Linked DNA regions of Homo sapiens: regions 1, 3, 4 and 5 are each reported to be linked to region 2. The links are microRNA targets in miRTarBase. Many come from high-throughput screens and were not tested one by one. Region 2 holds a microRNA gene; each other region holds the end of a gene's coding sequence.
What was found. Region 2 holds the annotated microRNA hsa-miR-3174 (UAGUGAGUUAGAGAUGCAGAGCC, at 3,454-3,476, opposite strand). A microRNA usually pairs through its seed, bases 2 to 8, with sites in the 3' UTR of a target mRNA and lowers its output. Matches are read on the target gene's strand: a 7mer-m8 pairs with bases 2 to 8, a 7mer-A1 pairs with bases 2 to 7 and ends in A, and an 8mer does both.

Region 1: the mRNA of MRPS23 is a reported target of hsa-miR-3174. Seed matches in the 3' UTR shown: 7mer-m8 at 1,645-1,651.
Region 3: miRTarBase lists SDR39U1 as a target of hsa-miR-3174. Seed matches in the 3' UTR shown: 7mer-A1 at 691-697.
Region 4: the mRNA of TNNI1 is a reported target of hsa-miR-3174. Seed matches in the 3' UTR shown: 8mer at 1,833-1,840 and 7mer-m8 at 1,710-1,716.
Region 5: the mRNA of KIAA0040 is a reported target of hsa-miR-3174. Seed matches in the 3' UTR shown: 7mer-m8 at 3,486-3,492.

What each region holds. Positions count from the first base shown.
Region 1 is chr17:57,835,337-57,841,389 of GRCh38, reverse strand. MRPS23 (mitochondrial ribosomal protein S23) reads left to right here. Exons shown (of 5, transcript NM_016070.4): 3 at 130-207; 4 at 338-464; 5 at 1,455-6,053. The coding sequence ends at 1,607. Among named protein-coding and RNA genes, the nearest start is that of MRPS23, 12 kb to the left of the region's middle.
Region 2 is chr15:90,004,187-90,010,239 of GRCh38, reverse strand. MIR3174 (microRNA 3174) reads right to left here and starts at 3,485; the gene lies at 3,399-3,485. The region is part of intron 1 of ZNF710 (zinc finger protein 710); the gene reads right to left.
Region 3 is chr14:24,434,411-24,440,463 of GRCh38, reverse strand. It overlaps SDR39U1 (short chain dehydrogenase/reductase family 39U member 1), which reads left to right. Exons shown (of 6, transcript NM_020195.3): 6 at 1-698. The coding sequence ends at 381. KHNYN (KH and NYN domain containing) reads right to left here. Exons shown (of 8, transcript NM_015299.3): 6 at 4,285-4,392; 7 at 3,975-4,076; 8 at 1-3,428. The coding sequence ends at 3,179. Among named protein-coding and RNA genes, the nearest start is that of SDR39U1, 5.3 kb to the left of the region's middle.
Region 4 is chr1:201,406,275-201,412,288 of GRCh38, forward strand. It overlaps TNNI1 (troponin I1, slow skeletal type), which reads right to left. Exons shown (of 9, transcript NM_003281.4): 7 at 5,083-5,259; 8 at 4,052-4,161; 9 at 1-2,976. The coding sequence ends at 4,054. It overlaps LOC101929343 (a long non-coding RNA gene), which reads left to right. Exons shown (of 2, transcript XR_241172.3): 2 at 1-95. Among named protein-coding and RNA genes, the nearest start is that of LAD1, 10 kb to the left of the region's middle. RefSeq lists an enhancer at 1,998-2,077.
Region 5 is chr1:175,155,708-175,161,760 of GRCh38, reverse strand. It overlaps KIAA0040, which reads left to right. Exons shown (of 4, transcript NM_014656.3): 4 at 615-4,775. The coding sequence starts at 748. The coding sequence ends at 1,047. Among named protein-coding and RNA genes, the nearest start is that of KIAA0040, 34 kb to the left of the region's middle.

The DNA of each region.
Region 1 (6,053 bases), not on the chromosome of region 2:
AGCTTAGGCTATGTGGGTTATACCGTACTTAACTCCTCAGTGCCTAGCACTTATTCTTTATTTCTTTTATTCCATTCTCATCCACAGTCTATAATCGGAGATTTATATTATGTTGTTTGCATTTTCTAGGAAGTTTTATTCAGTGTATGGGTCTGGTCAAAGAGCTTTTGATCTATTCAATCCAAACTTCAAGTCTACCTGTCAACGGTAAGCCATTTTATAAGTCCTAGGCTATTCATATTATTTTTTAAGGATTTTGTTATCCATTTGATATTGTGTAACAGCGTCTTAACAATGCTTACAAACATACCTAAAATGTGACTGCTTGGAATTACAGGTTTGTGGAGAAGTACACTGAGCTACAGAAACTTGGAGAAACAGATGAAGAGAAGTTATTTGTGGAAACAGGGAAGGCTTTATTGGCAGAAGGTGTCATTTTAAGACGAGTAGGCGAAGCAAGGACTGTGAGTATTTCATTGTTAAAATTGTTACTGGGTTTATAGTTGTCCCTCAGTATGCACAGGGGATTGGTGCTAGGGCCCCTGCAGATACCAATATTCACAGATGCTGAAATACCTTTTATAAAGTGCTGTGGTTTTTGCATATAACCTACACATATCCTCCCATATACTTTAATCATCTCTAAATCATTTATAATACATAACACATTGTAAATGCTATGTAAGTAGTTATACTCTATTTTTAAAAATTTATATTTTTTATTTTATTTATTTATTGTTAAAATATTTTTGATCCGTGGTTTGTTGAATCTGCATATGTGGAACCTGTAGATGCAGAGGGTTGACCAGAGTTGCCAATCTGATGGAAGTTAAAGAGAGACTTGGTTTTCTTTCCCTAACCTTGGCTTATGTTCTTAAACTCCAGGTCAAATACTGTTACACTGAATATACTAGAATTTTGTGGTAATGACTGCTACTTGAAACAAGTGAGTCGTCATTAGGGCTTTTGAAATTTGGTTCTATAGACTTTTTTTTTTTTTTTTGAGACGGAGTCTCGCTCTGTCACCCAGGCTGGAGTGCAGTGGCGCAGTCTTGGCTCACTGCAAGCTCTGCCTCCTAGGTTCATGCCATTCTCCTGCCTCAGCCTCCCGAGTAGCTGGGACCACAGGCGCCTGCCACCATGCTCAGCTAATTTTTTGTAGCTTTAGAAGAGACGGGGTTTCACCGTGTTAGCCAGGATGGTCTTGATCTCCTGACCTCGTGATCCGCCCGCCTCAGCCTCCCAAAGTGCTGGGATTACAGGCGTGAGCCACCACGCCCGGCCCTATAGACTTTTTAAAATCATGTTTACTATTTGTTATAGTAGAATTGGATCTAAGATATTAGTGCTAAATTTTTCACTCAGTGACAGAATGTGCCTAGTTATATATCTTTAGCGAATTAATTGAGTGAAAATGATAACATCTCTGTGATACTTAAATCTGGTCTTTTAAGCAACACGGAGGTAGTCACGTTTCCCGGAAATCCGAACACTTGAGTGTCAGACCACAGACTGCGTTGGAAGAAAACGAGACTCAGAAAGAAGTTCCACAGGACCAGCATTTGGAGGCACCTGCAGACCAGTCGAAAGGTCTCTTGCCTCCCTGAAGGACCTGTATACTGTGTATGCTGGCATTCACACTCTACTCACTGGCTGAATGTTGAGCTATTTTTAAACAGTTGAACTGTGTAAATGTTTCTTGATCTCTAAGGTATTATGTTTGCCTTCTCTTAGTTATTTCTGGGTTGTCACAAAGCTCAGTATCATGGTTTGACAGAAGCAGTTATGTGAACTTTTATGTTAGGACATTACTAAATAAAGAATTCCCTAGCTGCTTATAAAGTAAATTTACTTTGAATTGTAAATAACATGAAGAAACCTTTATAAAGATTGTTCAAATGGGACTCAATCTGACTAGGCTTGCTTTGATGTTTGTTAGTATGTGGGCTGGCTACATCTGATTCCCGGGTACATATTTCTTCTGATCCATCAGACTTATACGTGTACACATGTTGTGGAACCTTGGCTAGCTGGTTTTGTCTGCAGAGAATCTTTGTACTTCTTGCTATAGAACGATTATCTCTCCACTTGAGAGGCCAAGCTGACTTGCGCTTTGTGGTAAGAGTGAGGACCTGTCATTGCTGATACACAAAGACCAAAACTGTAACTTTAATGTCATGGATTGAGTGTGCTGGAGACAGTTAACATAGGCCTGCACAGACTAGGCTGTTCAGTAAATACTTGTTGAATGAATGAGTGAACGAATGGTTATATCCAGCTAAAGACTGGATTCATATGGTGTAGATAACAGGATTGCCAAGAAAGGAGGCAGCTAATTTAGGTGATGCTCTCCACCAGCATCCACCTGCCTCCCTGGGGCCAAAGTGTGCCTACAAGTCCTTATCAACTTCCCTGCCTTCCTCGTTTCCCCAGGTTTTACTAAATACATGAAATATCCCTCTGAGATTGCAGCCTTTGTATATGTGGTCAAGCCAGTGGTTTTTAGCTGTTAGTAGTAAGCTGCTTCAGAAATTCCCTATTTTAAAACTCATGTAGATTTTCTACCCAGTGATTCTTTGTGTATGCTCTCATCTCTCCTGGTACACTGTGAGGCAGGTCCACATCTCACAGTCTGTATATAGTACACATCCATGCACGTGGGTGCTTGGTTCATGCAGGTGAATGAATACATTAGGCAAAAGCAGCTCTCAGCCATGCTGCTTCCCCCTCGACCTTTATCACTGTTTCACAACTGCTTGCATTTGGAGAATGCTTTACTTTTCCGTAGGGAAGTAAATTTCATCCATTCAGAGACATTACACAACCATTGAGACCAAACATCGGGCCAGACCTTGGGAAGAGGACTTAAAAAGCAGGTGAAAGACACAGTCTATTCTCAGAGGAACAATTGAGGGGTCACTCATCTCTTTAAACCTTAGGTTTCTGGTTTTTTAAGGGCAGGTTTTTTTTGCCACAATGATGAATATTTAAAAAATGTTTTTTTCCTTCATGTCTGGATTGATGTCCCATTTTTGCTATTTTTGTTTGTTTTCCTCCTCTGTAGATTTTTAATTTTTTTTTTTTTTTTTTTTTTTTTTTTGCGATGGAGTATCACTTTGTTTCCCAGGCTGGAGTACAGTGGAGCCATCTTGGCCCACTGCAACCTCCGCCTCCCAGGTTCAAGCAGTTCTTCTGCCTCAGCCTCCCAAGTAGCTGGGATTACAGGTGTATGCTATGACGCCCGGCTAATTTTTGTATTTTTAGTAGAAACGGGCTTTTAACCATGTTGCCCAGGCTGATCTCAAACTGCTGGCCTCAAGTGATCCACCCATCTCAACCTCCCAAAATGCTGGGATTACGGGTGTTAGCCACCATGCCTGGCCTTAATTTTTTTTTTTTTTAATTTTGTTTTAGGAGATGGGGGTCTCACTGTGTTACCCAGGCTGGGTGCAGTGGTGCATACCCTGCCGCAGTCTTAACTCCTGGGCTGAAGCCATCCTGGCTCACTTCCCGAATAGCTAGGACTATAGGCATGTGCCACCACGCCTGGCTCTTTAACATTTTTTTTGTTTGTTTTTTTTTGTAGAGATGGAGTCTTGCTATGTTGCCCAGGCTGGCCTGGTCTCAAACTCCTGGCCTCAAGCGATCCTCCTGCCTCAGCCGCCCAAAGTGCTGGGATTACAGGCCTGAGCGACCGTACTGGGGCTGAAGACTTTTAAAGAAGTTATTTGTTGCATAATTCTTTAAAAAAATTATACATGCACATGGTTCAAAACTTAACAGTAAAAAGCTAGTCTCCCACCCCTGTTCCCCAGCCACCCTTTTCCCCTTCCCTGAGGCCATCACTATCACCATTTCCTTGTGCGCTCTTCCAGAAATATTTTGGGCATGGACAGGACACTATGCATACTGTTCTGTACCTTGCTTTTCTAGTTACTATGTCTCAGAGATCCACTGTGATTTAATCAGTGCCCGATTGAAGAAAATGTTCTTTGTTTTACTGTGTTGCAAATGGGCTGCTAGAGTTATGGGATGCTGGATCAAGGAGCAGATCATTTTGAGTTTTGATATCTTCGTCCATAGAAATTGTGCTTAACTATACTCTCATAGCAATGTATGAGAATGCGTTCCCCTACACATTCTGATCTTGTTAAACCAGACTGGGACTCTGGACCAGAAGGGAAAGACCATCCCTGTATAGCAAATATCTGGATGGGGAGAAAGCTGCTGTCACTCATTGACTTCTTTAGGTTAAGTCTTAGTGATCAAAACATAGTGAAAGATATGAAGCTTACTTTGGAAACTCAGAACTATTTCCACAGTTTGGGCAAAAGCTGTCATCAGATCCCCATCACGTTTTGGAGAGAATGGAAGCATGACCGCATTCTTGGCTTTAAAGAGCTTAAAATCAGGCCGGGCTCCATGGCTCACGCCTGTAATCCCAGCACTTTGGGAGGCCAAGGTGGGCGGATCACCTGAGGTCAGGAGTTCGAGACCAGCCTGGCCAACATAGTGAAACCCCATCTTTACTAAAAATACAAAAAAATTAGCTGGGCGTGCGGGCGTGTGCCTGTAATACCAGCTACCCGGGAGGCTGAGGCAGGAGAATCGCTGGAACCCAGGAGGCAGAGGCTGCAGTTGAGCCGAGATTGTGCCACTGCACTCCAGCTTGGGCGACAGAGCAAGACCCTGTCTCAAAAAAAAAAAAAAAAAAATCTTAAAATCGAGTTGGGACTACAAGAGTGACTTGTGAAACAGCAAGATGAACAGGAATCCTTTTAAACTTTGATATAAAAGTACAGTAGAGGTTCAGGGGCAAGGAATCAGTTCTGGATTTGTCTAGGAATACTGCATGAGAGCCTGGAAAGGCAGTGGGATGGACATGTACATGCGGTTTCTTTGGGCAGGAACACCCTCCCTTCTACCATGGTCTGTAGGAATTGAACCTTCCGTGCCGTTTTCAAATGCTGTCTGTGCTCGGAAAATACATAATATCAAGTCCCTTACTGAACCCCCTACAGATTGTGTTCATAAGGTGCTTCACTGCTGTTGGTCTACCTGGCCTACTGTTTGTACTCCTGCCTCATTTACTGTGGCCTTCATTCAAGTAGTAATGATTATTTACCTATTAAGAGTATAGGGTGGGCGTGGTGGCTCATGTAATCCCAGCACTTTGGGAAGTCAAGATGGGTAGATCACTTGAAGTCAGGAGTTTGAGACCAGCCTGGGCAACATGATGAAACCCCATCTCTACTAAAAATACAAAAGTTAGCTGGATGTGGTGGCAGCCTCCTGTAATCCCAACTACTCGGCAGGCTGAGGCAGGAGAATCGCTTGAACCCAGGAGGTGGAGGTTACAGTGAGCTGAGATCATGCTACAGCACCCCAGCCTGGGCGACAGAAGAGAGACACTGTCTCAAAAAAAAAAAAAAAAAAAGTATAAAGGAGGGCAGAAATTCTTATTCTTTTAACCCATTGAAACATTAAACAGCCTTTCAGGAGCAGACCCTCCTACGGATTTGCTGAATCCAAGGCGAGGAAGGCATATATCCAGGTTACAGTGAAGTTTGCCCCAGACAAGTAATGAAGATTTGGGTTCTAGATCTGGATACTCCAGGCAGTTTTTACTATGTGACCCTGTGCCTGTCACAGTATTTCAGCCTGTAAAATATGGACAATGTTTGCCTTTTTGGCTTCCAGTTAGCTTTGTGAGGATTAATTGAGATGAGTGCAAAGCTCATTTGTAATGTGTGGCTGGTGGTTTTATTACTATTTTGAGCAGTAGTGGAAAAGCCCATTTGAACTGGTAGGATGAGATAAGATCATGGTGGCCTTGACAACTACATGGAGGAGCCAGTTGGGTATGGGAAAGTTTGAGCAGGGAAAGAAAGAATGTAGTGAAAGCAGTGTCAGGTCAAAGAAAGGTTTGCCTAGGAGTGATGTAAAGAATGGGATGGAGGAGTGGGCAGGGAAGGAGGAAAGAGGAGACATGTCAGAGGGACCAAAAAGGAGGCAGCAAGTCCAAGGTCACAAACCTGAGTGACTAGAAAACT
Region 2 (6,053 bases):
AGCACAGATATCAGACTAGATTAAAAACAAAAGGAAATCCAGCCCTAGGCTGTCTACAGGAGACATGAGGACAGGGATCATAGGCCAAGAGTCCTATACAGGCTGAAACCACAGTCATGGTAGGTAAGCAAGTAGCAATGAACTGTGGCCAAGGCACCAAAGCATAGCAACAGGAAAGAATGGTACAAAAAAACAGATGAGAGAGGTAGGAAAAGGACCCAGAGTGATGAGCCAGACCCAAGGTGGAGAAGACTATTCATGACAATAACTGCTATGGAGAAGTCAGGTAAGAGGAAGTCACAAGATGGGCCACCGGGCAGTCAGGTAAGAGGAAGTCACACAAGATGGGCCACTGGGCATGAGTAGGTGGCCAGGGACCTCTAGGAGAGCCAGCTGGAGTGAGAGTGGGCTGGGCTGAAACGCTCCACTGTTGTTGAGCTGGCAAGGAGAAGAGGGGGAGAGAGGAAGTGGGGACAGAGTGGACTCTTCTTTGTGAAATCCTAGGGTAAAGAGAAGTGACACAGGTTGGGGTTGGGGAGGGAGAGAGAGGTGTGACTGTAGCTGTAGGTAGAGAATTAAGGCATAGGAGGATGTGGGGTGCCCAGACCTAGGGAGGAAGCCAGGGCAGGACACAGAGGAACAAGCAGTGGGGCTGATGGTGGGCACATGGGGAATGGACCAGGGAAGTGGGCACAGATTTCCCAGGTTGGGGCAGGGGTGGGCAGGGCTGCTTCAAGGAGTGCTGTGTAGTGGGAGGACAGGAAGAGTTCTGAATTTCAGAGGTGACCTGCTTCTGGGTAATGGCAAGTCTACAGTCTTGTGATTTGCAGCTACAGAATGGAGCCACGATGGGAAGCGATGGCTTGTGAGCCCAGGGCCCGAGGATCGGACATCACAGAGTGAGATTAAACTGACCAGCACTACCAGCTTCCAAAGGGTACCTGATGCTTCTCAAGGGGCCAGCTTGGACTTGGTCCTTGCGAGGACATTCTGATGTGCCCCAGGTTTTAGCCGTTGTCTTTTACCAAACACATGCAGGACAGTCTTCCCAGTCTGGAAGCCCATATCCTTGCAGTCCCACCGAGAACGGGATGGGGTCCGGGATGGCATTTCAGGTACCATCCAGAAGACAAAAACACACATAACCAAGAGTTATCACAAAAGTTATAGTTTCCCATTTAAATGCGGAGGGTGGACATTCCTGCTTTCTGTAGTGACCATTCTAACTTCATTTCGATTCCATATATATAACATGCTGGGGGCAGGGAAAGAAGAAAGGGAAAATAGTTGGGTCGCAATATGATCACTTATTCTCAGCTTCCGACTACACTAAAAATCCTCACATTTCCAACAGTTTTCTTAGTTCTCCCAGAAATAAACACACAATAGAGCATATGTATTTAATATCAGAAAATCCTTTACAATGGTGATTGCGAAAGAGACCAACCCACTTCTTTTCTTTTTTTTTTTGAGACAGGGTTTTCAGGCTGGAGTACACTGAGGCCATCATAGCTCACTGCAGCCTCAACCTCCTGGGCTCAAGCGATCCTCCCACCTCAGTCTCTTAAGTAGCTGGGACTACAGCTACACGTGCCACCGACTGATTTATAAAACTTTTTTGTAGAGACAGGGTCTCACTATGTTGCCCAGGCTGTTCTCAAACTCCTGGGCTCAAGCAATCCTCCTGCCTGGGCCTCCCAAAGTCCTGTGATTACAGGCATGAGCCACTGTGCCCGGCCTCCAACCCACTTCTAATAGTTCTTTTACTTCATGTATATATATATACATATATATATATGTATATATATATATACACACACACACACACACGTATACTATATACATATATACACATATACATATATATACACATATGTACTATACATATATATATACTACATGTATATAATAAAGATAATACATACTGGATAAAAATTCAAACAACACAAAATGAATGAGAGAAAAGACAAAAGGCCTCTGTACTTGGGGTAGGCACTAGGGATGGGGGAAGGGTCAGGTCTGTGAGCCATACACATTAATTAGTAGGTAATAAAAAACAGTTGTTTTACCTTTTGAAGCTGCTGATTCAACATATATTTGGCTGTGCTTTGGCTGTAACATCCTTTAATCCCTCCCTTTCAGAATCTACCCCAATTTCCTGTTGCCACCTTACCTCCCTGATTTAAGGGTGCAATTCTTCAAGTGCCTTCTTTCCAATTCTAGAATTTTTAATTTAGCCTTTGGTGCGGCAGCAGTTTTGTTTTCTAATTACTTTCTTTGCAAACAAGCATGAGTTGGGCCCAACAGTGATACAGGCTTTCATGGGCTAGCCTGGCAACCTGGAGCTATTCACAAGGTGCTTCCTTGGGAAAATGCTTTCTATGTTTTACATGAACAACTGGGGAGATGCTTACTTGTAAAGTGGGGGTGGGGGTGAGCCTCTTCATCTGTGCTACCAAAAAAGAGCTCGCCCCTAGTCCTGCTTGCCCTGTTACTAGGGTAGGCTTTGCAACCAGCGACTCTGGGACCCCAGTGCCTGGGTTCTAATCCTGGCTCTGAGGCTTACTAGATCTGTGACCTCCAGAAAGGTATTCAACCTAAATGAGCTAACAGTATGTATAAAGTGTTTACAATTATGCCTGGCATATCGCATGTGCTGTATAACAAGAGAGTTGGGTGAGGTTAGTCCAGTAAGACATTTGACAAATTCTTAGAGCCGCAATCTCCCTTGAGGCCAGTGAAAGCTACGGCTCCTCTTCCCAGAAAAGTGCACACATGTAACCTTCTGCACAGTTTCAAGTACCCCTGACCCTTGAAGCCCACCCACACACTGCAAGAGTCCAGGACCCCTGATTTCAACCGTCTGGTCTTCTCTACAGTGATGTGAAGGTCTCAGGGATAAAACTCTGAGGCAATTCTTAAAAGTATTATGTTCCCATGCATGGAACTATTGAGCAGGTGCCTCTCTCTCCCCGTTTTAGGTTCCGCTTTTGGCAGAAACGTTACACCTTTCCTCCCCAAAGCCCTTTTGACCCTTGCCAGTTTTTCTCTTGCTTCAGGCCAAATCCTCCCAGGGTCACCTTAAGACAATCTCTGTGTGCAGCTCCACACACTTTTAGGGAATTATTCTGATCCTTATCAAAAGCTCTGATGGTTCAGCCCATCTTCAGTGCTTACAGAAGTCAGACCAGAGCATGGACTAGAGTCTGCAGGGTCTCCATCAACAGCAACACAGGGGTGGGTCACCCTCAACAAGCAGGTAGACAGCACAAACTGGAAAAAGCCAAACATCAGAGAAGTCACCCCAGGGTGACTTTCCCAGCGTCACCCAATGAGCTCCCAGCAAAGCTGAGAACCTGTCATTTCAGTACTTTTGAGTCCATCAGTGCTTTACAGACATTACCATGCATGTGAATTAAAATGCAGATCCAGTAGGTTTGCTGAGGAGCCCAGGGCTCTGCATCTCTAACTCACTACCAGGTAACGCTGATGCTGGTCCATGGACCACATATGGAGTGGCAAGGTTCACATCAAGGTTAATGAACTGTACCACCCTGGTTAAAGCCTCTTCATCCACACTGCAGGTGGCTATTTAAATGTCCTTTCTTCAGGAAAGCCTCCCCTCCCCCTCTCCATGATTACTGGCTTCTATGCCTCTGTACTTTTTCCTTTGAAGCATTTATAACCACTGTAATTAAAGAGTATTTGTGTAATTATTAGTTTAATGCCTGCCTCCCAGGGAGACTGCAAGCTTCACGAGGACGGGACCTGCACAGTGTCTAGCACATCACAGACTGCCAATGAATGAGGAGCTGCTGTGGTCTGGAACAGGCTGGGCCAGCATCCTGGAGCAGGCAGGTAATGTTTACACATGTGGCAAACAGCCTCTGGTGGTATCAAGGCCAAAAAGGACATTTCTTAGTTTTAAAATTCCCACTAGTTTCAAATATATGCCAACTAAACTTTAACCTGAAAAGCAATCTTTGCCCATAAAAAGATCTCCTACATCTTTATCAAGTGCAAAATAGCCCTAATCTCACAACAGCCACTCTGCTTGAGGAACAGTTAGGCCCCTAAAATAAGCATTCCCTTATAGGCCTCACTGGGTGAACCCTCTTCAGGCACACTCCCTGACCAGCCTCCCTCTGCTGCAGACCCACAATTTCTTCTTTAGTTTTTCTGCTGCTGTCCTTCCAAGGAACCCCAAAGTGCTGAACGCCCAACTCTTTGGCATGGGCAGAGACATATGACCACATCATCGTTCCTGAGAGGCAAAGTTTGAAGTTAGACAGCCTGGGTTTAGATACCAGCTCTGTGCCCTTGGACAAGTTATTTAACTCCTCTGCCAAATGAGGATAAGAATGCAAGAGCCAGCACCTGCAAGAACTAAGAGAGACAAATACACAAAGCACGTAGCATAATTCTGGCCTAAGACACATGATTATTATTATTCTCCCTATATTCTGAGTCCAATTCAAAACCTATTGTTTTAGGCCGGGTGCAGTGGCTCACGCCTGTAATCCCAGCACTTTGGGAGGCCGAGGCGGGCAGATCACGAGGTGAAGAGATCGAGACCATCCTGGCCAACCTGGTGAAACCCCGTCTCTACTAAAAATATAAAAATTAGGCTGGGTGTAGTGGCGCATGCCTGTAGTCCCAGCTACTCAGGAGGCTGAGGCAGGAGAATCGCTTGAAGCCAGGAGGCGAAGGTTGCAGTGAGCTGAGATCGCGCCACTGCACTCCAGCCTGGTGAAAGAGTGAGACTCCGTCTCAAAAAAAGAAAAAAAAAATCTAAAAAAACCTATTGTTTTGCACAAGTCTCCACCCAGGGGCTCCACCCCATTCAGGATCCTCTCTTCCCAGCCCCCTCCTGCCTCACCTGTCTGGAGCTTGTTTGAAGCAATGACTCACAGCACAACTCTGCAGCTCCCATCAATCACCTCCCTGTCCCTGCCTGTGTCATTCATGGGTTCCTTCTGGCAGGCAAATCTTCCCTAATGTCCAGTACATTCATTCAGCAAGTATCTACTGAGGGCCCACTATAGATCAGACCCTATTCTAGGCACAGGGGCTCCGCAATGAACAAAGCAAAGACGTCTACCCTCACAAACGTTCTAGTACATTTAACCCACAGATGGAAATCAGTTCAGGTCTTGGGTCCTTACACTCCTTCTCTTCTCTCCTGACCAATCCTAAATAAATCACATACAAGTCAAAGTATGAAGAAAGCATTCCAGATCAAAAAATGGTGTGATGTGAGAAAATCCCGATGACTAAACTGCTTCTCTGATTGTTGGACTTTGAAGAAGTCAGTGTTGAAACAGCCTGAATCACCCAGTTCCCCCTAGTTGTCTCACTGGCCAGTCACATCCTCCAGCACAGTTTCTGTAACACATCTGGAAAATGAGGCGCTCCATTTACCCAACTCGTGTGCGGCGTGAGCGCACGGTTTCATGCTCTCATAGCTACATTCTTTGAAGTGAGCTTGATTCGGGATCCCCAGCAGTAGCAGAGACAGTGGCCTTGTAGAAACAGCACTGGGAACAGGCTCTGAAAGCTCAGGTTGAGTGCTGGCTCTGCCACTTACTGTGTAATCCTGGGTACAGAGCTTTCTTCCTGCCTCAGTTGCTTTCAGACAATCTCTAAGGCCTTCTTCCAGCTTTGAAGTCAAAGGGCTGGGAGCAAGCACCATTAACAGCAGGCCCAGCACATTCACAGATTCCTTATTTCAACATAATGAGTCCTGCCGCGGGCTAGGCCCTGGCTAGGCCTGAGGAACGAGGGTATGGGAGGGGTCAGCAAGCCAGATTATGAGCCTGCGCCAAGCATCAGCACTGGTGGGGCCAGGGAGCTGACTTCACTTGTCTCCTCCAAGATGCGCTGGACTCCTCCTTTATTTATTTATTTACTCCCTTCTAGAAAGAAGTTGTGCTTCTTTCCAAACACAACTCTGCTAGAAATATCTCTGGGCCACAAGGCAAACCTAAAATAGAAGTGCAAAATCTCTGGTGGTCCCATTAGTCTCCCTTCCTCCAACTCAAAAACCATTCCAG
Region 3 (6,053 bases), not on the chromosome of region 2:
ATGGGCCACATGCTGCTGCCCTTTCGCCTGGGCCTGGGGGGCCCCATCGGCTCAGGCCACCAATTCTTCCCCTGGATACACATCGGGGACCTGGCAGGAATCCTGACCCATGCCCTTGAAGCAAACCACGTGCACGGGGTCCTGAATGGAGTGGCTCCATCCTCCGCCACTAATGCTGAGTTTGCCCAGACCTTGGGTGCTGCCCTGGGCCGCCGAGCCTTCATCCCTCTCCCCAGCGCTGTGGTGCAAGCTGTCTTTGGGCGACAGCGTGCCATCATGCTGCTGGAGGGCCAGAAGGTGATCCCACAGCGAACACTGGCCACTGGCTACCAGTATTCCTTCCCAGAGCTAGGGGCTGCCTTAAAGGAAATTGTAGCCTAAGTAGGTCGTGGCAAGGGCCTGAGGCCTGTTCCTCACAGGCTTCCAGGTTAGGCACTGTGAATAGGCTCAGCTCCTCTAGAGAGCTGAAGCCATCTGGTTCTTAGATTCCTCTCCCAGTCCTCTTTCCCATTGTTCTGTTGCTCCACCTTATTGTCTCAAGGCCGTAATCTCATCAGGTTGGGACATTAATCTTTTCAACTCCTTGTAAGATTTCCCAGTTTGGTTTCTCTACATGTCCTGCAGCTGCCCCACTTCTCCTTTACGCTGTGTAGAGAATGCTCTGCAGTTTAGGCAATAAAAATAAATTGTCTCACTAACCTTGGCTCATCTCTTTGGCCTAGATTCTCCTGGGATTTACTTCAAGGAATGTCACCCTAGATGATTCTTCCCCAAAGACGGGGTTTTGAAAGTTACAATGAGCAGTCTCTCTCATCACCGTTTCCCTTCTTGGTCCTTCAGTTGCCAAAAGAACTTGTCACAAGTTTGGGACATCAGGTTATGATAAAGATAGACACTAGAAGAGAGAATGATGATCCATTTCCAATGGGCCCTGTAGTCACCCTGGATGCTGTCAGAGTGCCATTAGGATGCCAGTAGAGGAAGAGGTAAGGCCCAGGTGTAGGATAGCCTTCAGTCTGTGTCACCAAATGGCAAGTGCATTACTAACCACACAGTGGTCCCAGTTTATCAGGCTGCAGCAGAACAAAGTCAACATCCCTGTCTATAAGAAGCTTAGGACTTGCCTCTCATCTGACTGGGGCCACTCAGTCAACCAGGGCCCTTAGCACAAAAGGGCAGAAGACACTTTTGGTCTACTGCACACCCACCATCACTGAAAGTGAAAATGGCAAGAAACCAATCAAGAAGTATAAACAACCCTATCAGGAAAAAAAAAAACTCCAAGGTTTTCATCTAGGACCCTTTTTACCTACCTAAAGCTGTGACATCTGCCATAACTTGACCAGACACAGTTCCCCCAGCCACCAGTTCAGGCCATACTAACCAATCTCTTCTCAGGGACCGCTGGGTTATCTCTTAATCATTGTCACCTCTTTGACCAGCCTGTCTCCAACACACCTGCCCCCAGCCTGGGTCAGTATGGTACAGTGGTGTAAATCACCAAAAAGGAAGGGGTGAGGACACAAGGACCCTCCCCATCATCATTACACTCGCCATGCAGTATTCAACTCCCTGTGCCACTCAGAGGGAGGCAGAAGTCAGGGCCTGGAAAAGATCTTGTCTAGAGACTCCCCACAGGCCCACACAGAACAGAACCCAGGGGCACCTGTCCTACTTCTTTATCTGGTCTTGGATTCCAGGAAGTTGACTGGCTCTGTATTGTTCCTGGAGGTATGACCAGCCTCAAAGGTGGATGTAACAGAAAAGCATACTTTAGGCTGCACTAAAGTAAGGAGTACTGATTAATACCGTCTACACAGGGAATGTGCTACCCTGGAGATAGTAAATTCCCTGGCACAGGAGGACTTCAAGCAGATCCAGGGCAATGACCTCTAGGAATCAGGGTGAAGAAAGCATGTCAGTAACAGCAGAGTTGGTCTGGTGGCCAGTCAAGTGCCTTCCAACTCTGGTTCTTTCATTTTCCAGATAATTGGTTCATCTAGAACCAACTGGTTCAACTTCCGTTAAGTCCTCCCATCCCCATACACACACACATAAAGCAGAAGTGTGCCTTGCTTTATGCAACATACGTCTTCCATAGAGAAAATGTTAGGGTCGGATCACATTAATATTGTCATTGCAGAGCATGGCTTCATCGATTGGTGAAAAATCGACGTGTTCATCTCAACACCAGGAAGTGCATCTAACCAGGGATTTGCCAACACATTTGTTAGTCTGTAAACAACACCTGAATACAACAGGAGAGCTGCCATTTATAGGAACCCTGAGAGTATTTTGATAATGCAGTCATCCCTAATTTACCTACTGTGTAAATGTAGATTTTGGAGGTTGCTCAAAAGGGATGCAGCCATTATAGGGCACGTTATAGTGAGAATGCAGTGTTAAAATCTAGGGTGTGGATCCTGGAGACAAAGGACCCACATCTCTCTGAAAGTGAGGTTTCGGTTAGAGAGCCTGTGCAGCCACAGGCAGACACACCTGAGACTTGGTCCAAGCACCTTTCCTCCAAGAGGCTTTCCTCTATGTTCTCATTTCTCCTCCCAACAGGTATTTTTACCCCTGATTTGTAGGCAGAAGTAAAGCCCAAGCAACTCAATCAAGGTCACAAAACAGGCATAGCTGAGACCAGAAGCCAAGTCTCCCTCTGCCTTCTTCACTAGCTCACTCCACCCTATCGTGGCCCAGTCCACATAACACTGTGCCAGGGCCTAGCATCTCCTTCCACGCTCCCAGGAGCTCAGCAAGGGAGCATCTTGTTCTCTGGCCATCCAGAGCAGCAGCCAGGGAGAGGAACAGCTTAACTTCCTGTCACTTCCTGCCCACCCTGCCCTCCACCCTAGCTCAGCTTGGAGGTGGAGCCAACAGTCTCAGTCTCCGGAACTAATCCCCTCTAGCAGCCCCCACTCCCTACAGAAACCCTGTGCTAAGGCAAAGTTGAGAAGTTAAGGCTGAGCAGAACCTCTTGAGAGCTGGCTGAGGTCCTGACTCGGTAAGATCAGTTCACTTTATGGACCTGTCCCAAAGTGGCTTCCCTGATCCAAAGCACCAACTCAGGGTGCCTCTGGATCAGAGTGAGCAGCAGAGGGACTCTCACAGAAAGGGCTGAGCTGGAGGCGGCTGGAGCTGACAGGGCGGCAGCCACTCAAGCAGGTGAGGCTCAAAAGTTAAGACTGAGCAGGGCCTCAGACAGTTGGTTGATGTCCCGGCAGTATGGCTCCCGCTGCAGGATGAAGTCCACTTTGTGATCCTGACCCCAAAACACCTCCAGCAGCTGCCGCCGGAGCCGCTCTGTTTCCCGGGTCTTCCGAATGCCACCACTACCTTTTTCCTCTTCTCTCCCCTGCTGCTGTTTACCATGTTCTGCAAAGCCCCTGGAAGGATGCTGAGCCTTAGAAGACCCCTGTGTCCTGGGAAGAAACAGACCAAAAAGAGCTGATGAGCATCCTGGGGGGGAAATTAGATCTTAGTGGGCACCCCTCTCGTAATTGTCCTGCCTATTCCTGGCTTTGGGGGAGAAATCCTGAAGTTCCTGAAGCTGACCACTGAGTGGCAGTATCAACCCACTTCTGAAGGGAAGATGGGCCGTTCTTTTAGAAACAGGGTGAACTCTGCCACTATTATGATCTAGTTCTAGTCCTAAATGAATCACTTATGTAATGGTCAGCAGAAGGCATGCTGAATACAACTGGCTGTCAGTATAAGCAACCATTTTCCAAATAACTCCATCAAACATGCTGATTAAGAGAAACAGGAAGCAGGTGTTTCCCTCCCAGCAAGGAGGTTCTATGTCAGGATCCCCTGGGAAGCTTATAAAGGCCAAGGCCAATGCAACTCAAACCACTGCAAAATTAAGCTGGCCCAAACTGAGGTCACACTTCCACCCAAGTCTCTGGGCCTGCTGAGAGAGGGCCAGGGGTGGGGGCTGCCTGTAAGTAGTCTAGGGGATTGATTACCTGGCTGGCTTCTTCAGAAATTCATCCAGGGTGGGGCCGTTTCGCCCCAGTGGGTCATCAGGTACCATGAAGAGGTTTCCCACAAAGGTAAAGGGCAGCAGGCTGGATGGCGAAAGATAATGTGTGGTCACAGAGGGGGCCCTTGCCCACCTCCCAGACAACCGAGACCAGTATCACCAGAAGCTGCTGGCTCCATCCTTCAAGAAAACTTCACCTCCTTCCCAGAGTTTTCACCCCATGGCCAGAGCAGAGCTGGCTTTAGAAAAACATCTGCATCTGTGCCCAGTTCTCAGCGGGAGGGCTCCCTCACCGTTCTCTGATGATTGCCATCCACTTCTCAGACTCCTCCGCCAGGTCCCGGAACTGGTCATTGGAGACAATTATCCCATCTGTCTCTTCAGCCAGCTTCACCATGAACCTGTCTCCAAAACCACAGCAACCGAGAGAGGGTTGAAAAATTACCTACTGGGTACAATGTTCACTGTTTGGATCATGGTTACATTAAAAGCCTAGACTTCACCACTATGCAATATATCTATGTAGCAAAACTGTATTGGTATCCCCCAAATCTACAAAAATAAAAGTAAAAACCACAGCAACCATTTGGGACTCTCCAAGGCCCCAACCCCAGAAGTTTTACTGTCTCCCATAGGCCACTTCTGGTGATGGAGATCTGGCCCCCTACCTCACCTTGACCCAGCTACAGGCAACTGACTAGATGCAAGTGCCATGGCCTAGAGAGGAAACAAAGATGAATCCAAGGTGGTCTCCCAGTAGCATCCTATCTGCCAACCATAGTCCTTCACCCAACACTTTGTGCCTCGTTAGTAAACAGTAAGATCTAGCTCTGTCTTCCACCCTGCCCAACCAATCCCTTGCAAATCCAACATGCCTTTCCTTTGAAAAGCCTTGTGCTCTGCTCCCTTCCTTCCCAGGCCCACCATTACCACCCCAGTAATTCAGATATTGCAACTGAGATTATGCATAACCTCCTAACAAGGGGGTCCCCGCCTCTGACCACTCACCCACCCTCCAGTCTCCCCTGCCCTGCCCCAAGAAAGCATGCTTATCACCTACACAAAACTCTTCCACACTTGCCCTTTATTTACCAAATAAAGTCCACACACCCAGGCCTGGCAGCTAAGGCCTTCTACAGGCCAGCTCAAATCACCCTTACAGCCTTATCTCTCCCAATATTCCCTAACCCACTCTCAACTCCAGCTAAAATCAATAATCAGATTACACTCTGCTCTCCACATATGTCTTATGCTGACTTCCATATTTCTCCAACTATTTCCTCTATCTGGAAGGCACTTCCCAAGACTTGCTAAGGAACAGAATTACCAAGGGAACTTTTTTAAAAAATGCCTGGGCTCCATTCAGTAATTCTGATTCCACAAGACAGGGTAGGACTCATGAAGTGATGGGTGGTGGTCTTTTTAACAGATTTAGAAACAGAGATCCAACCCATCCCAGTCTTCTCAACACAAAAACTCACAAATCTCTCCTTTCCCACAAAACCCCAGCCAGAATGGGGCTCCTTTCCCTCTGAGTTCCTGTAGTGTTTGATTTATGGTTTCTTTCGGCTCTCTAGTCAAGAATCAGATCTTGTTCCCAGTGTTCCCACCTCCTCCTGCAGGCCATGCACCTAGTACTAAGTGAGCAGTCAGTATTTGAAAGATAGTGTGGTATAGGGGGAACTGGGAGTCAGGATTAGGTGTGACAGATATCAGGCTCTGAGCTTCTGTCTGGGAAACAAATTAAGGGAATGACATACAAATGTCTATGGCCGGGCTTGGTGGCTCACGCCTGTAATCCCAGCACTTTGGGAGGCTGAGGTGGGCGGATCATGAGGTCAGGAAATCAAGACCACCCTGGCCAACATGGTGAAACCCCATCTCTACTAAAATGCAAAAAGTTAGCTGGGCACGGTGGCATGCACCTGAAGTCCCAGCTACTCGGGAGGCTGAGGTAAGGGAATCACTTGAACCTGGGAGGCAGAGGTTGCAGTGAGCCGAGATCGTGCCACTGCACTCCAGCGTGGCGACAGAGCAAGGCTCCGTCTCAAAAACAAACCAA
Region 4 (6,014 bases), not on the chromosome of region 2:
CATTTTTGTGAGAATGCAATGATATAACTCAGATAAAGCATTTAACATCACATATTACTATTATTGAAATGCTGTTATTAAAATAGTCGATAAGAGTATGGATTCTAACAGACTTCTTGGGTTGAATCCTGGGACCACCACTTATTAGCTGTGTGATCATGAAAAGTCCCTAACCTCTCTGTGCCTCAGTTTTCCCCACTGTACCATGAGAATAGTAGCTGTACCTTTCTCCTAGGGTTGTTGTGAAAGTTAAATAAATTAAGGTGTACATGCTGGTGCCTGACGCATAAGTGTGCTACATGTGTGAGCTGTTACTCAGTGGCAGGCCCCAGCTCCCAGCTCTACTGGTGTTGTCTCCATGGTGAGAGAAGACTGGAGTAGAATCAGGGCTCTCCAGAGGCCAGGCCCCCAGCCCAGGCCCCATTCTTGGCTACAACAGCCCCTTCCATAGATCCCTCTCCCACCCCCAAGCTCTCCTTCCCCTTGTCCACAGGGCCTCTCAATCCTTGCGCTCCAGATATGTCTATGCCTATATTCGCCCTTGCTCCATCCTCACAGGAGATGAATTAGGTCTGTTGCTGCCTGGAAGCAGAAGGAGGAACCCGATGACCTCCAGGAACCCTCTGGTTGGCTCTTCTGCCCCTCCTAGAGGGCCACTGGCTTAGGTGTGTTGAGTGGGCCCCACCTCCTCCTCCCATGGGTCTTCTGCACCCACGTGTTTGCTTTGAGTCAGGCCCAGAGCAGGTCTCCTGCCTTTACATGACTGGGTGGATACCCCAATCTGCCAGGGCCCCAGGTTAATAGTTGACTGCAAAACTGGGATTTGACTCTGGAACTTGGGGCCAGGCTCTAGGGAAGAGCTGGAAAGAGGTGAAACAAGGAGATCGCTTTGGATCCAGGCCAACCGGAGGAGCCCTGTGAGGCGGGGAAGAGTGGGTTTCTGTGGCTGCCTGGGCATGAAGGCATGAAGCCTAACCCCATCCTCTGTGGCCTGGACCAGCCCTGTCAGGTTCTCCAACTTCGTGCATTGAGACTGGGTGTGTCCGTGCCTACGGGTTTCTGTGTGTGATTGGGGTTGTGCTTTTTGCACACATCTGCCTCTCTGCCCACTGACCTATTTATAGCAAGAACCCTGGGCAGAGTGCTGCTTCCCCTAAGGTAGCCCAAGTTGCTGGTTCCCACTGCCATGCTTTCTGAAAGGGGCTGGCAGCCCAGCAGCCCAGAGAGCCAGACCATGCCCTGGGGAGCAGCTGGCACTGCACTTTGTACCAATTTCTGGCACTTATGGAAGATAATACATGGGATTCGAAGGTAGAATGGGGACTCAGTAGGGTGGGTAGAAGGGTTGCTGCTCTGATAACTCAGCCCCTCCTAGGGCCAGTGCTAGGGTGGTCGAAAAGCCAAGGGACCCCAGGTCTGGGAACAGCCACTTCCCTTGCAGGCTTAGCTCAGAAGTCACCATCCCACTGCCCTGAAAAGTCAGAACTTGACCGGATGTGGTCGCTCACACCTGTAATCCCAGAACTTTGGGAGGCCGAGGTGGGCAGATTACGAGGTCAGGAGTTCGAGACCAGCCTGACCAACATGGTGAAACCCTGTCTCTACTAAAAATACAAAAATTAGCGGGGTGTGGTGGCACGCACCTGTAATCCCAGCTACTCAGGAGGTTGAAGCAGGAGAATCGCTTGAACCTGGGAGGCGGAGGTTGCAGTGAGTCGAGATCGCGTCACTGCACTCCAGCCTGGGTGACACAGCGAGACTCCATCTCAAAAAAAAAAAAAAAAGGAAAAAGAAAAGTCAGAACTTTGGTCTCTGCTTCACAGGAGCCACTCTAGTGAGTATGTTGGGGGAAGAGAGGCTGCCCCAGACCCCCCTTCCACCCCAGAAGGCCCTATGCTCTCACCAGGCTTTGGACCCAGGAGGTAGTGGGATGGAGAAAGGACCTGATCCAGAGGACAGATAAGTGGCCACCCCATCTCCGGGAAAGAATCAGTCCTGGGGGATAGGACCAGTGCAGGAGTGTGAAGGGGAAACAATTGGGAGGAGGGTGGGTGAACGTGGGGAGAGCAGAGGCCGGAGGGACAGGAGAGCCCAGGAGAGAAGGAAGGCGTCACCTGGTGGCCAGGCCTGGAACTGCAAGTATCTCTTCTGTGAGGCCTCCTGCCCTGTGCAGCAGGACTAGGTGAGGGATTGAAAGTGCCCTGACCTCTCAACCCAGCACACATCAGGGAGAGTTAATCCAGGTTTGCAGAGGAAGGAGAGTATGAAAGCCGGCAGGAGAAGCGGCTCTTAATGGAGAGGCCTCTTCTGATGGCCAGAGTCAGGGGCAGGACGGGGTCATTTCTCGGAGGTCAGGGCTCTGGTGAGCTGAGCATCCTGGGTGGTGAGTGTGTGCAGTGTGACGTCACAGGGACTGGGCAGAAGGGGCCCCAGGGGACCCTGGCAAGCAGCCACCAATTCCTTAGCCCTCCCTTCAGATCCCGAGCTCCGGACTGCAGACAGGGTGACTGGAGCCCAGCACAGCCCTCTCTTCCCAAGCCCCAAGTCTTCCCTTTCTTCTCAGGGCTCACAGTCAGAGCTGCAGAAATGACCAGGAAACTGGGTTTTTAATGAAGAAGGTGTGATGCCTGTGGACACTGTACACACATAGAAGGAGTGTGGCACAGGGCTGGAGGAAAGGTGTTCTCACCCCCTCCTCCTCCTCCACTTGTTACACCACGGGGTGGCTGAGAAGCCCCAGGTGCCTCATGGGTGGATAGAAGCCCACCCTGCCAGGGTGAGGTCTTCAGACACTCGCGTTTTTCCTGCCTCTTGGGTATCTGTTTAATCCCAGTTCCAGAGGAGGGCATGCAGGCTGGAGGGAAGAAGTGGGGGAGAGGTGGGAAGGGATGCTCCAGACACAGGCAGAGAGGTGAGTGAGCTGGGTTGGAGAAGAAGCATGAAGCAGGAGCTCAGAGCGCAGCACAGCAAGCTGGCCTGTAGGGACAAAGAGGCAAAGCCATCAGTTCCCGGGGACCTGTGTGCAGCGCATGAATCCCTGACTTACCTACAGCACATGCAGTCCCCAGGGCTTCTCAGCCCTAGCGCACCCCGGACTGGATCTTCATTCATAAGGGCTCCTACAAAACCTCAGCTTCTCGGCCCTCGGGCACAGTTGCTCCCCTTTTGGGACCCCTCACACCGCTCCTCCACACTGCGGCCCTCAGCTCTTACCTAGCCTTGCCATGCTACTCTGTGGCTGCTTAATTCCCACCTCCATGCTTCTGTTGCACCATCAGCCCTTCAACATGCCCTTCCCTTTATCAGCTAACACTCGCTCGTCGCATCCTCAGAGAGCTCCTCCTCTCCAGAAAGCCTGCTCTGACCAGTGCTGTCTGGTGGATGCCTGCCCTATTGCACATTCTCTCAGCACTTCCGTAGAGGGTTTTACGTGGCCTGATTTCCTTGCTTTGCCCAGTTTCTCCAGCTATTTCCTCAGATGGTGGGAAGTCTTAGCTTCTGTGAGTGGTAGCTCCTTGGGAACAGGTACTGTGAGTGCTGGGTACTTCGCAGGGAGCACAAATAAAGGACATCACCAGGAGGTATTTAAAAGTGCATAGATTCTCAGAAAGTCAGAGATGAAGGGATCCCAGGGACCCTCTAACCTAGTGGTTCTCAAACTCTCATGTGCATCAGAATCACCTAGAAGGCTGGCCTCACCCCAGAGTTTCCAATTTAGTGGATCTGGGGTGGGGGCTGATCATTTGCATCCCAGGTGATGTAGACGCTGCTGGTCCCAGGACCACACTTGGAGAACCACTGATTTGATACAGCCCCCAATTTCATAGATAATGGGAACAAAAAGGGCCGCCAAACAGAAATGACATGCCCAAGTATCATGGTGCTGGAGCCAGGACTGAGCCCAGGAGAGCCGACTCAAATCAGTCTCATCGGTGCCTTAGTCCGTGCATCCGTGCACCACACTAAGTACAACCCGCCTGCCCATTGTGGACTCCCTCATTATCCTCTAGACTCTGATGGACCCCAGAGAAGGGAGCTGGTCTCTAGGTACCTCTATTGTGAGGTCGGAGACTTGGCGGCATCAAACATCTTCTTCCGGCCTTCCATGCCAGACATGGCCTCCACGTTCTTCCTCCAGTCACCCACCTCCACAGGCCGCTCCTGTAGACAAGTGGCACACACATCAGGGACTTACCAGGCTGGACGGCCCCCCAGCTCAAGAGAAGCTGGGTGATAGGAAACCAGTCTCCTCGGATGATAAGAAATCCTGATGCCCCTCCCCAGCTGGTAAGGTCCTAGGACTCAGCCAGGCAGGTGGACACAGGCCAAGCCGAGGCCCCACAGGAAAAAGGAAGCTGTGTGGCTTGGGAGCACTGGGTGAAAGTGGCAGCTATGGGGCTAGTTCCCACCTCAGTGCACCTCAGCAAAACCTCCTCCAAGGCTCCATGCCACCCTCCTGGTCTGGCACTCAGCAGGCTCAAGGCCACCTCTTCCAAGAAGTCTTCCCCTGCAAATGCGGCTGCTTTTCCATTTCCTCAGTATATTGTCTGGCTTATCTCTTCTCCTCTGAAGCTTCTTGGGCCAGAGACTGTTCCTTCATCCCTGTTCCTTACAGAGCCTATCAATTTGGGGCACATATACTGTGAATTCAACCAACTTTGAATAATTTGTTGCTGGGTGGTTGAACTCAGTTCTCTAATGTCTATGCTCGTGTGTGGCTATAACCAAGATGAGCTGCTGTCTCCTTTCCCTGTGGTGACCAGGCAGTCATCTCCACCATTACCCTAAATCTCCACATTATCTTCACACTGGGAACAAGATTTTTACTTCATTTCTCCGTCTGGGGTCTAGCTTTCTTTATGTCCTAGTTTCTTCGTCAGACTGGGAACAGCCTGAAGGAAGGGAGCAAATCTTCTTTCTTTCTTCCCACACTGGTCTCCCAAAGCATTCTAGAATGTTCTGTCTGTCAAGCTGACTGGTCTCCAACAGGAGCTCCTGGGCCAGCCTGAGGCCATGTGAGGGGTTGACAAGGGGAAAGCTGGTAGGGCAGAGGGTGGAATGTTCTGAGGAAAGGGACCTCACCTTCTCTGTGTCTTCCTTCTTCACAGACTTGAGGTTGGCCCGCAGATCCATGGACACCTTGTGCTTGGAGCCCAGCAGGGCCCGGAGCATGGCGTCAGCCGAGACACGGACTCGACGCAGGGGCGGGCGCTTGAACTTCCCACGGAGGTCCATCACCTTCAGCTTCAGGTCCTTAATCTGTAGGTGAGAAGCGCCCGGGGCTCACTGGAGAGGCAGCTAGCCACAGGACACCCTTCCTGAGGACCTCAGACTGCTAGGGTTCCAGCCAGAGATACACCTTAAATTGTCCACCCTTGAAGCCAGACCTATCAGCAGTCACCAACCTTTTTGTCACCAGGGACCGGTTTTGTGGAAGACACTTTTTCCACGGAGAGGTGGTGGGGTGGTTTCAGGATGAAACTGTTCCACCTCAGACCATCAGGCATGAGTTTGATTCTCATAAGGAGCGTGCAACCTAGATCCCTCACATGCACAGTTCACAATAGGGTTCACACTCCTGTGAGAATCTAATGCCGCCGCTGATCTGACAGGAGGCAGAGCTCAGGCGGGAATGCTCATTTGCCCACTGCTCACCTGCTGCAGTGTGGCCCAGTTCCTAACAGGCCACGGACAGGTACTGGTCCACAGCCCAAGAGTTGGAGATCCCTGCTCTAGGACAGTCAGACCCACCCATCCCTTTGCAAATAACCACTGCACATTTGCTGATAAACGGATGGTTAAGTGGACAGATAAAGCCTATTAGCCGTTGCTAACACTATAGCCTTGAATAAAAGGGGCGGCTCCACCAGACTGAGACTTGTCTGATTTGGAAGCCCTATTTGGAGTGCAGGGCTGCTTCCTCTTGTTCCTGCAGCCTCATCCCTGCTTCTAACTTATTCCTCCCCAGTGAGCCTTCAAAGCAGCTCACAGCCTTGGTCCAGCAGGGTGATAAA
Region 5 (6,053 bases), not on the chromosome of region 2:
AGGAGACATGGAGCAGGGAAGAGATCATGAGGGGACAGCACGGAAAGCAGGCATGGGGCAGGATGAGGACTGATGACCTCTTAGCCCAGAGGAGACCCAGGTTCCCTACTACAGACAGCAAGAAGTAGACATCTCACTTTGTGCTTAAGCTTCAATAAGCTTTGAAAATGGCAAGTTATGTTAATAAAAGGTTACATACAGACCTGTCCTGTGGGGAGTGTGTGTTCAACATCTGTCAGGTGAGCTACAGTGGAAAAAAGATTGAGAACTGCTGTTGCAGAAGGGTCCAGGGAAGCAACCCCTTATCAGAACACTGAACACACACATTGATTCATTTATCCAACAACTACTGAGAACTTCCTACGTGCCAGACCTGATATACTATTCATTTTTATATCCTAAGCCCAATATAATGTGTGTACATAGCAAGAATTAGTTGATGCTTATTGATTACATGCATGCATTTATCTTGTTTATTGAGTCAATACAAGTTTACTGAACCCTGGAAATCTTCAATTCCTTCCCCTTTCCTAAGCCTAAAATCTATGACACTATTAAAATTGTAGACCAGTCCCCCTGCATTTCTCTTCAGTTGTCTGTTTTAATCTCTTCAGGTGCTGCCAGTGGCATGCCCAAACCCAAAGCTGGAAGAGGAATAAATTACAAGTGGTCAAGGTTGCATCCTTTTGAGCCCAGGACCTGCTTGTAAGCCGAGAGGGTTCTCTGGCCCTAATCTAGCCAAGCACCATGGAGAGAATCAGTGCCTTCTTCAGCTCTATCTGGGACACCATCTTGACCAAACACCAAGAAGGCATCTACAACACCATCTGCCTGGGAGTCCTCCTGGGCCTGCCACTCTTGGTGATCATCACACTCCTCTTCATCTGTTGCCATTGCTGCTGGAGCCCACCAGGCAAGAGGGGCCAGCAGCCAGAGAAGAACAAGAAGAAGAAGAAGAAGAAGAAGAAGAAGGATGAAGAAGACCTCTGGATCTCTGCTCAACCCAAGCTTCTCCAGATGGAGAAGAGACCATCACTGCCTGTTTAGTTAGGCAGGAAGCAGAGGTGTTTCCTTTCTGGGGCTAAGCCTCCTTCTGACCACACACAGACATTTCAGGAACCCCTGAAATAATGCACTATGTCCATGTCCACAGAGTAACTACTCAACCAAGGAACAAACCTCAGACTAAGTGTCCCAGTGGAGGGCAGTCCCAGGGACCACGTGGACAATTCTTGGATACTGTCTTGGCAGCTATGTGTCCAATAGCAATGCTCCTTACTGCAGACCCAGGCATGCCTCCCACCTGTCTCTGGCATACCCCACATGCAAAGCACAAAGAACATTTATCCATACATCTCAATATGGTTCCCAAGTGTGTGCACATGCACGTAACACACACACACACAAATTCAGGTAGCAGGTACGTGGGCAAGTATATTCTGCTCATCAAATGGTCATTGGCTATGTACTTTGTGCAGGGAAGTACATTATCTACAGTCACAAAAATGTCTCATGGGAAAGCCTTGCCAGATTCAGACACATATATACAATTTCCTAACCAGCAAGGCCCCCATACACCATCTATTCCATAAACCACTCAGGTTACAGATGCATGCTTTCCTATTTCTAACTCTACACATAAACTTTTACTGGAAGTACTCATAATTGGACATTCCAGCAACCTGCTACAGTCCCCACCCTTGTGTGTCTTGATACAGACACACCAAGTTTCTGTGCCTCTGACCCCTCACCTGTGCCAAGATGTTTAAAGTGTGATGGTTCAAAATTCATTGAAAGCTCTTTTCTTGTAACTCATGACAAAGTCCGTCCTCATTGCCACTGAGAGGTGTTTAATGTGATCCAAGACCTCTCTGTGAAACATTACCCCCGCAAACCACTCAGCAAAGTGCCTTTCTCCAAGCAAGAACAAAGAGCTCTTGGTGGTGACTGCTAGAAAATTATGGAAGCCCACTCATTTATGTCAGTGGACTGCAACTGTGTACCTGTGCAATGTTTACAGATGGAAAGGGTGAGGAGATGCTACACCTGAGCTAGGTATCTCCTATATAACCAAAGTTTCCAGCAGGGAAGGAACTAGACAATCATCAGTGCAGTCTCACAGAAGGCAACACTGGAAGTGATGTCATAAGGTTGTGATGTGTGCACGGTATGGCACAGGTGGGATGCAGAGGTAACAGAGTTTAAATGAAAGTAGGATGAAGCTATAAAGAGGTTTATTTATATTTATATTGAAGCTCAGGCAAGTGCCTTGCACACAGTAGGTACTTATAACTAACTGTGGTTACTGTTGGATATGTGATGTTGTTAAGGGTAAGCTTGTAATACCTCACCAGTTCTCCCCGAGTGATCTTCTCTTCTAAGTGAGCCCACTAATTGCTGCAATGGATGAAATTGGGTGTTTAATGCTGGAGAGCACATGTAGGTGACACATGTGCCTTGAGGTATGTGAGGACATGTAAATTAGATCCACAGTGAGCTGAGGAGGGCTTTCCCCGCCAGAGTGAGGTTGGGAAGCAGAGTTAATCCACTTATAGGATGAACTGCTTGGTATTTTTATTGTATTGTGACTGTATTACAAAGATGGACAATTCACTCCTTGGGAGCAAGTTATGCTCTAGAAGTTTATTTACAAATATGCTGGGCAGCTCTCTTGAAATATTTTCCCAAGGAAGCTATTCTACACAGTGGCAAAATTGCTATCTAATTAATAATGTAGCTAAACTATGATATTTATAGTAGCAAAAAACTAAATTCTATAAGATTGCATTAAAGGAAAGATATATTCTATTTGCTCACTTGGGCTGCTTGGTACTCACCTGCCCTCCAGGTGTACTTTAGGCCTGTGGAGGGTGGGCATTTAGTGGTGACCCTTGCACCAGGGTTTTCTAACAGATGACCCTGTGAATCATAATTTAAACCTGCATATATTTTATAGCCAGTCACATTTGCCCTCTCACCCTATATGGCCATAAACTGCCTAAGCACTCAGGCCTCCCACTCATCAACCCCTTTGACCAGAGAAAGAAGCACTCTGGTTCTCTATCCCCTTGTCACATAGAGAGTTTGTCATGGGGCCTCTGGCTGTGCCCTTCACATAACAGAATGACTTGCCATCTGCCTGCACCAAACCCAGGGATGTGGAAGACATCTCCCCACAACTGCCACTGCTCACCAGGACAAGCTGCCCTTCCTGTCTCCACCTCTCAGTCCCCCTAGAATGGATGGCTGGGGAGAGGTGGAGGCTGACAGCTGAGACGTAGTGTCAGATATGATCTAGGAGGGCGGATCACCGGGATCCGGGACCATACAAGTAACATGGTTTCCATGGCAACTGCTTGCTCCTTTGAATTAAGACAGCAGTCAGTTGTCATTGCCATGACAAGGCCTCTATCTCCAGGCACAATGTCCCTGCTGTCTCCTAATCCAATGGACTTGCTCTCACCCCAGGGATGAAACACCCAGAAACTCACTTCTCAGTCACTTCCACAGCCGATGACTCAGAAGAGCCAAACCCAGAATGGGGCCTCTCTTTTCCCCATCACAGACTCCCCTGACAACCTTTCCTGGCGTAACTAGAGGAGTCCCAGTGCAGGATAGGCCCTAAACGTTTTGTTAAATAAACAGGTGCATGAAAGGAGCCTAAGGCCATTGTTGATATCCACTCTCTTCTTTCCACTTCCTTCTCATCTTTTTCTCCATGTTTTATGCTTCTCTGATTCCCTCTTCTGCCTGCACCAGACCAGCCCCAGCCCTTTATTCCTCTCCATTTTCACTCCTTCCAGCCTCTGTCCCTGAACTGCCACTGGCAACCCATGGGACCTCAGGACCAGAGACTGCTTGACTCATCTGGGGAGGGTAAGTTCACGGGGGACAAAAAAATGATTCCTAAAGAAGAGGCTTCCTAGACCAGCACAGGCTCGAGAAAGACATCCCCTAGGCCTGGACTTCTGAGCAGCTTTAGCCAGGCTCCGGACGGCAGCCAGAGGAGGCCTTTCCCCATTGCTCCTTTCCCCATTGCTCAATGGATTCCATGTTTCTTTTTCTTGGGGGGAGCAGGGAGGGAGAAAGGTAGAAAAATGGCAGCCACCTTTCCAAGAAAAATATAAAGGGTCCAAGCTGTATAGTATTTGTCAGTATTTTTTTCTGTAAAATTCAAACACACACAAAAGAAAAATTTATTTAAATAAAATACTTTGAAAATGAAAAGTCTTGATGTAGTCAGATGGTTACTCTCTTAACATTAGGTATTACCCCCACTCAGACATCACTCAGAAATGATCAATGCAGGGACTCTTTCTGTGACACAAATGTCCCAGCCCTCCCTGGTCACCGCCTTCGCCATGGTAGAGTCATAGGTCTGAGGATGAGGAATGTGGCTGTCTCACCCTTGCTTGCAAAACAGATGGCCTTGGAGACCAGACTCCCTCAAAGGTGCCAGCTACAGGAAAAATATACTGATGTTCCTTGGCAACACTTACAGAACTTTCCATCAATGAGGTCCATCAATGGCTTCTTAAAGGAAAAGGGGGGAAATAGCAAAAACCTAAGGAAGAATGGACCTTTGAGTTAAATCCAGTGTTTGTTGGGAAAGGAGGGATCAAAAACCTCTATAGTAGCCACTAGGGCAAAAACTGTGTGTATGTGTGTGTGTAAGTGTGTGTACACTGTTCAATATGGTTCAATATGGTACCAATAGCCACATGTGACTATTTAAATTCATTGCAATGAAATAAAATTAAAGGTATACTAGCTCAGCTATGTCTGCCATATTTCTTTTTTCTTTTTTTTTTTTTTTTTTTTTTGAGATGGAGTCTTGCTCTGTCATCCAGGCTGGAATACAGTGGTATGATCTTGGCTCACTGCAACTTACACCTCCCGAGTTCAAGTAATTCTCATGCTTCAGCCACCTGAGTAGCTGGGATGACAGGCATGTGCCACCATGCCCAGCTAATTTTTTTTATATTTTAGTAAAGATGGGGTTTCACCATACTGGCCAGGCTGGTCTTGAACTCCTGGCCTCAAGTGACCCGCCAGCTTCCCAAAGTGCTGGGATTATAGGCATGGGCAACTGCGCTTGGCCATGCCAGCCACGATTCAAGTGCTCAGTAGCTACACGTGGCTAGCGGCTGCCATCCTGGACAGCATAGGTCTATGATCTTGGGGGCAGGGTCAGACACCTGGGAAAAACAGCCATGCTGACTGGATTTCAAGGAGGGCTTAAGAAGGAAGGCCTAGAGCACAGGTGGACTCTTTGCCTTATCTCGCCCAAGGCAGGTTATGTCTGTAGTTCAGATGAGTTCATTCCTGGGCTCCCTTCCCCATCACCACACACTCATGACAACCAGAGAACAGAGACTCTTCATTCAGCTCCTTGTTCATCCACCCAGGACATTGCTAAACATTCTGGTGCAGAGGAGGAACTGATGCTCAGAAACCATCTGGGAGGGGAGCAGCTGCTGCACCCCTGAGGGGATGCCAGTGCTCAATGCCTGCAGCCGCACCTGCCCCGGCTCCATCCTGGCCTTGGGGTATAATATGGATTTGGACAATGAATGCCATCACGTCCTTAGCATTCTCAGTTTATCACAGCACTCTGCACTGGCCCCTTGCCCGTTGACCTTAGTAGTATTTCCCAATTCAAAGTCACAGGTTTACTGGACTGGAAAAAAATCCCTTCAACCCGCTTTCTGTCTTAGACTCAAAGGGTTGTTTTCAAACACCTGTGTGGGCAATGTCACACTATATTTCTTCAGGAATGGCTGTGACTGTGTACCTCCAGCCCTCTTTTGAGGCTGTTCATCCCATTAACATTTCTGACTGTTTACTATATGCCAAGCACGCTAGGTGCCAGTGATACTAAGTTGTCCTAGAGGGGCTCAGAACCTGGTAGGGGGGCACAGACAAGCAAACCATGACAAGACAGTGTGGCCATTGCTTCCTTAGAGGGAAGCTCCCAGGCTGGCTTCAGGACAGGCCGGGGGAGATCGCCTAGGAGGTGTCTAGAGACTTGCACAGGAAGAAACTGAGAAAGG